Linked DNA regions of Homo sapiens: region 2 is linked to region 1. The links come from fine-mapping of genetic effects on gene expression. A gene starts in region 1. The other region holds a variant in brackets. All regions are shown on one strand. Distances are from middle to middle.

Region 1 (5,374 bases):
CACCTTTTAAATCCTTTACACGTACCCGTCTTTGGCCTTTGGCAGGTCAGCCCTGGGCCAGGCCATGGCTCCAGTGCACACACAGAGCTCATAACGCCAAAACCAGCTCTGAGAGCCAAGCCAGCTCTGGGTTTCTAGAGGTTGCACTCTCTTCCCTCAGGCAACTCCATGTCTGCAGGAATGTGTAGGCTGCGGGAAGGCAGCCTCAGGGGTCGGGTAAGATAAGAGTGTCCCTTTGTTTATGACGAGACCACTGGGGGACCATGTCTAAGACCTGCCCTGGTCACAGGAACACTGAGGGGTGCTGGGAATTATCTCCTCTAAGAGAAGCATTTTATTCTGCTACAGAGAAAAGGCAGAGAGTGAAATATACTGTTCATTTAAAAAAAATCCCTTTTAACATAGATAAAGGGGAGGAACTGGGAGGAAAAGAGAGAAAAAGCAGACGTAACTGAAGCCATGGTTTCAGAAATTCAATCCTAGTAGAAGTGCTGGAGGGACAGGGAGGGTGTGGCTGGGAAGGATGGAAACAGACCAGGTTTATTTGTGCACAAAGGGAAGCTCCTTAGAAGGCATAGGCTGGTGAAGGGGAGGGGAAGAGCAGCCTCTGGAAACAGCCCCCAGAGCCAGAGAGCGAGTCCTAGAGGATGGGGCTGGTGAGTTGAAGCAACCAAGGGAGAAAGACCAGCAGACAGTGCAATAAAACATCAGGAAGGTCCTCTAATATCAAAATACAGGTCATCCATGGGAACTAATGAGAGGCCAGAACTGAAGTAAACTAAAGTGTTGCCAAAAAATAAAAATAAGGTCCAAGTTGATTGATCGATAACACGGTTAGTATGAAGAAGTCCACATTATGCTAATTTCTTTACATATTATTCTAATTTGTATTGTCTCTGAAAGTCAAAATATCATCTTAGTCAATTAACATTTATTGGTGATAACATTTATTGGTGAAGTTGAACCATATATGTATCTTGAAGTTAACATTTTTGCTATATATCGGGTGCTGTTCTAGGGGCTTTCAAAATTATCCAAGTCTTGAACTTTTGCAACCCTCCTTTTTAAAGAGGAAACAGGTTCGGTGACTCAGTGACCCACCTGAGATCACCTAGCTAACAAATTACAGGATTAGGGTGTGAACCCGTGGAGCTCATCTGTTTCCATGCTCAGAATCCCTTTGCTAGACTGCGTGGCTCTTATGTCTATGTAAGCATGATAGTCCATGTTTAGTTAATATAAAAAGCTATTGTTTTCATAAAACTTTCATTTTCACTGAAATACATTAAGTGACAAGAACTTTACCCCATTTATCATTGGCCCTGATCTTCTGATGGTCTGGCAAGCTTCCCTGAGTAGTGTTGCCAGGATGCTAGACTTACCTGCGAGATTTGCCTTATAGATCTAATCTAGACAGAAATGGCTGACTTCACAGAACTTTGGAAACAATCTGCAGACATCAAGTTTTACTTATAATTGAATAAAAATAATTTTTCTTGCTTATTAGCTATGACATTTGTGGTAAGTTGCTTAAAGCTCCAGACTTACCCCGTCTAATACAGTTGTCTCTAGCCACATGTGGTTAAATTTTAATTGTAATTAACTAAAAGGAGATGCAGTTGTGAACTCATTTTATCAGTTGCACTTGCCACATTTCAGAACTCAATAGTCACATGTGGCGAGTGGCTACCATACTGGACAACACTGCCCCAGACCAAAATACCAAATCATTTAACTTTTCTGAAGCTGTTTCCTGTCTTATAATGGGTCTAAGATTTCTAATGATCATTAGCATAGCACTATTGTTGGTAACATGAAATAATGCATGAAATTCTTTGCATATTGTAAAGTACTATACTCATGTAAGTTGTTTTTTCTTTTAATAATTGCTGTACTGTGTTGTGAAACTGTACAGTCTTTGCAATACTAAGACTTTGGCCCCAGGATCTTACAATCACGTTAGCTCTTTTTCAGAAGTTGAACTATGTGTCTTGAAGTTGACATTTATGCTTTGTTCTTTAAGACTGAAGTCCTCATTCTGCACCACTGACAACTTCTGACAGTTTCTCTTACTGTGGAAGGTTCTATTCTATATACACATAAAAAGTGAAACATATCACTTTACCATCTGGACCATGTCTATTAGAATTTAATAGGAAAAAAGCGCAATTAACTAGAAGCTGGTAAGAGTAATGATCTTTTGCCCCATACAAAGTGGACATTGTGGATCACAGAGAAGGTAAATGAGTAACAGAGCTCCCGTATGCTTCATGGGGTCAGTGATAACCAAGTTCATTAACGAGTGACAGTCTTAATGACTAACACACCTCTAACATTTCACCTCTAGCTCAGATGAGAGAGAGAATGGGACTTCTTGGTACTGATTGTTTTTCCCATGCCTCAATTGGTTTCTTTTAGGGAGCTACAAATTTACGTGTTCACTGGTGATTGATCTTTTCATCCAGCACAATGGACAGAAGTCTAAGGAACGTCCTTGTGGTTTCCTTTGGGTTCCTGCTTCTCTTTACAGCCTATGGAGGTCTGCAGAGCCTGCAGGTATGTGTGTCCGGTCATCAAATTACCTGAACTTCTTGGCCTCCAAGAATCCCTGTGGTCACAGACAATAATGAATTGGAAATTTGAAAAATCTAATTCACCTGGTGTTTCTTTTTCACTCTGTACCAAATCCTCTAAAACAAACAGTGGTTCTCAGATGCAGTCCTACAGTGAGCAGTTCCCACTCACGTCTCAATAGGATTGCACAACAGCGAGGTGCACGTTGCTCTTGGACAAGGACAGCAGGGGTCTTGGGACTGTGATTTGTTGGGACATTCTTTGCCTTTGGGTGGTTAAAAGGAGACACAGGAAAAGTCATTGTGAATTCTATGATTGATTGGATGCCCTTGGCTTTGTGGTTAGGGGCAGCCATGTGAATTTATCAAATGTCACTAGACCTTATACATTCCAAGCCTACTCTAAGCTAAACTGTGAACTTTGACAACATGATCTCTCTATACTTTGAACTCCTTATGGCATGCTCTCCTCCATAGTTCCGTGAGCCCATGAAAAAGCCAAACGGCATTCTCCGAAAGGCTGCAGCATTCATCATGTGCACCTAGACATAGACCTGACACATTTTCCCAAGCTGGTTACATTTCAAGTCTGATCTTTACCTGGATTCCAGTCTGAATTCCAGGGAATTCCAAGGGCTGGTCAGGAAGCAGGGCTATTGTTACTCCCCCGGCTTATTCATTGCCACAGTGTTGTACCCTGTGGCCTGGTGTGGTCACATAAAACATTTCAGAGCTTCTGATGACAAATTAGTGTGGTCTTACATGGTTCGTCAATGAAGAATAAGAATTGGGCACCTACTGTGTGCATAGTATGGAACCAGAAAAGCACACCTGGGAACTCAGAATCCGAGGTTTCTCCTCTCACTGTTGTTGTGCAAACACTTGGGACTCCTGGGTTGCCAAGGAAGCTGGAATTCAGTCCTGAATTCTCAAGTAATGTTTCCTTTTGCTGAACTCCTATCTGGTTCTATTTCTGATCAGGCTTACAGAGGATAAAATGGCAGCCAACAGTGACTCTCAAAGTCAAGTGGAAGGGAACACAGTCTCTTTTCTTGCCGCAATGGTTCATTACTTTTGGAGTCCCTGCTTTGCCCAGAACTTTGTGTTGTTGTCACAGAATGCTGGTGTGAGTGAAATGCCTGTTGGGTTGAGGTGAGTGCATGTTGAATGTGGTTGGTGTGCACTTTCTGGAAGGAGGGAGTCTCAAGGATGTGGACTGGTCAGTAGCCCTTTCTCTTTAGAAAGCTCACCTGCCTGCAGAAGGAGACCCTGCTGTCCTCCTGGCACAGCAGCTCCCCTGGGGTCAGCATTCCTAGGAACCGACAGCTCCCCTGGGGTCAGCATTCCTAGGAACCAGTTCTGGTGGATCCGCTGTGGCTCAGCCACTGTCTGAAAATTGGCCTCTGGACTTGGAAGCCAGAGGAAGGGGGCTGGAGGGGGCTGGGAGCTGCCAGGGGTCCCTCCTCTCAGGCTGTGACGGCAGGACCCAAGGCTGTGGGCAAATGCGGGCAGACAACCCTTTGCCTCTTCAGCCCCAGTTTGGGGGTGCCTCATTGGGGAATCACTCATGGTGGCATCTGGATGAGCTCCGCAGCTGTGAGCAGCTGCCTGGGGAGTAGATTGTCCCACGCCCCGCCAGCACTTCCCACTCCTCCTGGGCTGGTGGAAGTGGGAGCTGCTGTCTCATGATGTCAGCCCTTCCTTCTCAAAAGACTGGAGATGCAGGGGAGCCAGACCTCCCTCTCTGCAGGGCCCCAGGACTGTGGAAGGGTCCCCTCCACTCCAGCTCCACCCTGGTTCGAGGCCCCACCCGGGCCTATTGTCGGCAGCTGACCTTGAGCATGCGGACGTGCTTTAACCCTCTAACTGGGACAGCTGTCTCTGCTACTCAGGACTGGCATGGGCAACACAGAGTGTTCAGATAGAAGTGACTCAGGATTGGTTTTGCCCCAGCATGCTGAGGAGCCGAGCCCACCTCTCTCCAAGAACCCCAAGGCTACTATGGGGTTGGCTTCGCTCTCAGGCCCCAACAAGGCACATGCATCCCCAGGCTCCCTCCTCAGAGCTCAGCAGCCCCAGTGAGAAGACAGGGCCTCATTCCAGAGAGTTCTCCTGAGTCCTCACCCTGGTCTGGACTAGGTCCCCTCGTCCAAGGACAAAGGACGCTCTTTTGTGGCACCTCCCCCTGTAGCCACCACCTCCTTTCACCCTTTCTGGCTGCAGGCCTCCAAGTTCTCATTCAGCTCTCAACTTGGAGGTCACCTCCTTCTCCCCACCCTGCCCTGGAGCTGAGGTCTGGATGGGGCACCCAGCACCCTCGTGGCGGTGTGTGCCTGCCCGGGTTGTCTCCACCAGTGGTGGCGGCCTGCAGTTTCCAGGATACGAGGGCCACGTCCCTGGTCCATTCTCAAACCTTAGACAGTGACGGGCACTCGGAGGCGGGCGATGGATATTTGGTGAAGGAAGAAATCATTCATGTGCACTCAGCTGCTTCATATCCTTCGGGCCTCCCCATGGGCTGAAGGACCCCTTACATTCCCTGGGAGCACGCAGGCTCCTCACAGATGAGTTCTGGCAGAGTCTCCAGCCCCATCCTGTCACACTGTCCTGTTCTCAGCTGAGATTCAGGCAGGTGTCCACAGAGGCGTGAGCGGCTCTCACAGCCATCCAGCCCCGGCGCAAGCACTCACAGGGGTGCCGGGCCTTCACTCCCTGATGTTTAGACACACTAACTGCTTTATTCCGAATTCACCTGCACTTTTCTCCCACCAGCTTCAGAGGAGGCTCCCAGGGCAGCAAGC
Region 2 (5,374 bases), 22 kb before region 1:
CTTTGAAGATACGATAGCTATTCCCTATTGTTCACTTTAAGGCAAACAATGTATACATTTTTCTGTGTCAGGCTCCTCTGTGAAGTTAGTGAAACGGTAGCTTAGTTTGCTCCCATCTCCTGTTCCGCGCTGCTGGTTTTCGATTGTGCGTCACTGAATTGCCATCAGAAGTCCAGTCCCGACTGCGTGTGCGAGGCCAGGGAGGGAGGTGAGAGGCGGCCTCTCGGACACACTCTGCTGTGATCTTTGATTCAGGAGACACCCTCTTTGTTGATGATCCCTAAGAACTAAAGAGAGACTCCAGCATCACCCTTTCTCCTGGTGCCCTGTCCATAACTAAGCATCCAGGAATGTCCTCTGCAGGCATTTTCTCTGCTCATCCTCGCAGCAATCCTGTGAAGGAGACGTTTTCTCCATTCTATAGGAGAGGACTCTGAGGTTCAGAAAACTCAAGTCAGAGAACACGTGAGCTTGGACTCCGTTGCCTGACCCGCGTCGGACTGTAGGCTGCTGTTGCAGCTGTGTGGCTTTGGGTGCCTGGCCTGGGTGCTATGTGTTCACAAAATGCACTTCCCTTCCACCCTAGGTTCAAGGTGAACTCCGATCCCAGCCTCTCCTGTCAGGCTCAGCAATGGAAATGAGCAGAGGGGCCCTTTGTTCCATGCAGGCTGAATCCAGAACCTTCTGAGGACTTGAAGCCCTTTTATGCGGACAGGATGGGAAGTTAAGCGAAAGTTAACTTCTGTTGGATTAAGACCCTGAAGATTGGGCTTTAACACCTGTTGTGTTACCTGCACTCAAACAAACCAGGGCTCCTTACTCAGCCCTCAGGAGCCTTGGCATTCTCACCTCTAAAGCAGGAGGAGTCGTGATAACTGCCTTGAGGAATTTGAGCAAAGTTAAATGACCTGAACTATTTGGGCGTGTCTTGACCAATGTCCGACCTTGGGAGGTGCTGGATGAATTTTTATTTCTCTACTTTAAGTCAGCCTTTCTACCTTGTTGCTCTTCTCAGCTGCCTTTCTCTGAGCCTCCTTCATCACTCTGTTCATTTCTGTGAGACAAAGATCATTACAACTGCCTTAATATTTCGGTGCAAGACGCACCGTGACCTGACATTGCTCTACCCCGCCTCCTGCCACGATCATTCTTTTGTAGCAATATTCCGCCAGCTTCATTTTGTGCAGTGAGTGGAACAAGAGTCAGAACACCAGGGCGGCTGAGCCTGTCGATCAAGCCTCCACCTAACAACAGACATGCCTGAGTCCCACAGTCATAATTAGGATGAAGCTTTTCCCTGGCTGGACCCGGACTGCAGTCACACTGTAAGAGCTCATCATTCTAGGCCTCTGCCAGTGCGTGTTCAGTCAGAGGCAAGCAGTGGCCCCGGCTCCCAGAAGCATGGGGAGGACTCCTACCAGGGACGGTGGCCAGAATGGCTGCACACAGCCTTTGCTTCCAAGAAAAAGCATCTCCGCAGGCCCAGGCACCTCTGGCAGCCCTCAGAGCAGGACCCTCTTCAACAAGGTGATAGCAGAAGGGAAGAAACGCAGAGGTCTGTCTCAGAGATTAGAGCAACACAGAAACTGGATGCCCCCTTTCAGGGGAGAAACACGGGGTTTCACATCAGGAACCTGTTGAGGAACTTCCCGTCAGGCCCAGCAACACACCCAGGACCAAACCCCAACAGTGATGACTAAAAAATGTGTGTGGGGGCTGGGCACAGTGGTTCCTGCCTGTCAATCCAGCACTTTGGGAGGCCAAGGAGTGAGGCTCACTTTAGCTCAGGAGTTGGAGACTGGCCTAGGCAGCATAGTGAGGACCTATTTCTACAAAATAGTAATAATAATAATAATAATGGTAATAATAATAATAAAGCTGCATGGCCCCCAAAGGGTCGTGTCCAGCTCTGGATAAACTTGTCTGGTTAGTTCAGGTTTCATGGCGCGGCATAGAGGACCCCGACCGTTCATCACTCATTGCTGTGTCCCCAGTTGGCTGTGGCCTGAAACTGCCTGGTTTCAGTCAACACTGTTGCCGTCTTGCATCAGCCATTCAGGGGGTGGGTACCCATGGGAGGGCCTCAGCCAGGACAAAGGTCCACTTCTGTCTAATCGTGTAACTTTAAAATAAAGCTTTTGTGCAGGGACAGAGTAAACAAACTTTAAATGTGAATTTGCATCAATTGAACATTTACAAGTGTGACACTTTTACCTGGTGGCCCACTGGGACCAGGACGAAGCAGCTGGAGGGGCCCCAATGTGTGACTGAGAGAGGAATGTGTGGGCAGCCGTAGCGAGGCTGAGAGGTGAGCAGGCTGGGAAAACCCAGCGAGATGAGCGTGGCTGGAGACCGGCGGAACAGGCAGGCTGTGCAGGGCTTGCATGGGCGAGTGAGGCGCCCGTGCTGGCCAGAACATCATGGCTCTGTGCTGAGGGAACCACGGTGAGCGACGCCCAGAGACCCAGTCTTGGATCAGGAGCTGTAGTGGATACAGTTGAGGGAGTTTTGTGTAGTGCCTCACTGTTCTGATAAGAAGAAAACATGT[A/G]CAAGCTACGAACTGCAAATTGAGAAATTTTGGTGATTTTGCAAATGAGATAAATGGTCCTATATTTGCATTTGAAATTGGCATTGCACAAAATAAGTTGACTAATAATTTTTAATTTTCCTTCTTAGAATGACAATGTGGCAAATAAAGGAACCCAATGAAAAGAAGGGAAAGAGACTGCAGAGGGAAGGAAAAAGCTTTATATTTTACTACCATAATGGCACTTTTTAAAAAATTTTTATTTATTTATTTATTTTTGAGACAGAGTCTTGCTCTGTCGCCCAGGCTAGAGTGCAGTGGCACAATCTCGGCTCACTGCCAGCTCCGCCTCCTGGGTTCACACCATTCTCCTGCCTCAGCCTTCCCAGTAGCTGGGACTACAGGCGCCCACCACCACGCCTGGCTTTTTTTTGTGTGTGTGTGTGTTTTTAGTAGAGACAGGGTTTCACCGTGTTGGCCAGGATGGTCTCTATCTCCTGACCTCGTGATCCACCTGCCTCGGTCTCCCAAAGTGCTGGGATTACAGGCGTGAGCCACTGGGCCCGGCCAATAATGGCACTTTTTCCTGCTTTTTGTACAGGGGGTCCTGCATTTGTGTTTTGTCCTGGGCCCCTAAATTCTGCAGCTGGCCCTGGTAGAAAGCTGAGAAGTCAGAACAAAGGACTGCCCAGAGGCTGCACGGGGTGGGGGTGGGGGTGGGGGGGGGGCGTTCACATGGTCCGGAGTCCCCACCCCACCGCGTTTATATCTGGCACACTCTGGAGGACCCATCCATCTGTGTTCATGTCTGGCTGTGGCATCTATTGACCATGGGCTCTCAAAGTCACCTAATCATTTTGCATCTCTCTTTTTTCATGTCTAAGACAGGGATAATGATGGCACATACCTGTTAATGGCTGTTGTGAAGCTCTGTGTTAAGTTCTTAAGACAGAACTTGTCACAAGTCAGCCAGGCGTCATAATCACCGATGCCATCTCTTAACAAACTGGCCTTAACTATGAGCAGAGGGTGCAATGCGGAGGGCTGTGGGGTGCCCAGAGGTGAACAAGATGAGTGCTGTTGTCAGGGAGCTTTCAGTGGGATGAGGGAGCAGGGCCCCATCACGAAGGACATGGGGGGTTAGGGGAAAGGGGAGCCTTCCGGTGTGGGGGACATGGACAGACCTTCGGAGGAGAAAGGGTTGTGGGTTGAGTTGCATCCCCCGGAAAGGTATGTTGAAGCCCTAACCTGGTGCCTGTGAACGAGCCCTCACTTGCAGAACTGATCAAGTTGAGCTGGGGTCAACTAGAGCAGGGTGAGCCTCGAGTTCCATGTGACCAATGTCCTCATGGGAGGAGAGGGGAGCACGGGGAGAAGGTGACCACTTGAGGACGAAGGCAGAGGTTGGGGTGACGCGTCTACAAACGAGGGTTTCCCCGAACACCAGAGCTAAGAGCAAGGCATTGGCGCCCTCCCGCTGTGGAGTCTGCAGAGGGAGCCTGGCCCGGCTGACACCGTGGGTGCAGACTCCCGGCCTCCAGGCTGGGGGACAAGAAGTTCCTGTTGTGGCGACCTCAAGAAACTAACACAAAGGGGCATTTGAATTCAGTTGTCCAGGAAGATACAGGTGTTGCAGGGATGGGCTGCCACGTGGGCGGAGGCCTGGATGGGAAGGATTGTGCCAGGCATGGGTTCCCGCAGTGTGTTCCCCTGGCTGGCAGCGTCGCGGCACCTGGGAGTCATTAGGCAGCAAGGGAGGGAATTGCGATTCTGGGCGGGGCTCAGCTGTGCAGATTTTAGCAAGGTCTCCAGGTGCTTCTGCTGAGGGCCAGAGTTAAGACAGAGCTTAAGACAGAGAACCTCAACAGGAGGCCTGAAGGAAAGCACCTGGGAGTCATTAGGCAGCAAGGGAGGGAATTGCAATTCTGGGCGGGGCTCAGCTGTGCAGAGTTTAGCAAGGTCTCCAGGTGCTTCTGCTGAGGGCCAGAGTTAAGAAAGAGCGAGAACCTCATCAGGAGGACTGAAGGAAAGGAGCCAGGCTGCAGCCCTCTGCCTGCCCTTCCGTGCCATCATCTCCAGGATTAATGAAAGGGCCATTCAGGAAACAGCACAGGTGAGATGTGGGATGGGCTCCGTGGCTGCCTCTGTTTCCTGCCTTCTGTCTGTAAACTTCTGATTCAAGGAGGTGGCGTGGCCTCTCAGGGCAGTTGTATTTTTGGTTTACAGGCTCGTCAGCCCCCACTTATCTATCATAAGTGGGACACACATATGGGAGGAAAAGTTTCCTTTTCCTTCTACCCATCCTAGGTTCTCTGGCTGAGGTCCTATAAATTAGAATGGCAAAAGACAGGTTGACAAAATAGAAACAAACAAGGTTATTAACATGCTCATCATGCACACACATGGGAGCACTCAGCCATGAGTCACTCCAAGGGTTTATTAGAACTTGGGCTGATAGAGCTTCTAAACAAAATAATGACAAATTTTAGAGGAGTGACAAGACAAAGGAAAAGACCTTTGGGCTTCTAGGGCAGCAAACTGCAGCCAGCTAAACACATGGGAAATGAATGGAGGATAAGGGCTAGTTCCTAGTAGTCAAGTTTGCTGAGTAGATTCCTCCAGTGCTGTCTCCAGGCTGATAAGGCCTAGACTTGCCCCAGTGATTGGCTTCTGTCCTTCCTGGTAGAGACAGGAGTGGGGACACCTTCACTAAATTATGTCCTGCTTTTAGGCAAAGAGGGGCAGGAGAGAGAGCTTCACTTATATCTACATCTTAAAAATTGTCTTCAGCTCAAAATGATCCTTATGCCAAAGTGGTGTCTTTGGGGGTGGCTGACTCTGCTGCTC

The links.
Region 2: its variant is fine-mapped to the expression of UNC93A in unexposed skin (GTEx, PIP 0.92).

The regions. Positions count from the first base shown.
Region 1 is chr6:167,289,021-167,294,394 of GRCh38, forward strand. UNC93A (unc-93 homolog A) reads left to right here and starts at 2,295. Exons shown (of 8, transcript NM_018974.4): 1 at 2,295-2,556. The coding sequence starts at 2,470. RefSeq lists an enhancer at 4,557-5,374.
Region 2 is chr6:167,266,819-167,272,192 of GRCh38, forward strand. It overlaps a transcript of UNC93A not described here. Among named protein-coding and RNA genes, the nearest start is that of UNC93A, 22 kb to the right of the region's middle. RefSeq lists an enhancer at 832-2,031. The variant A/G (reference allele first, on the strand shown) is at 2,549.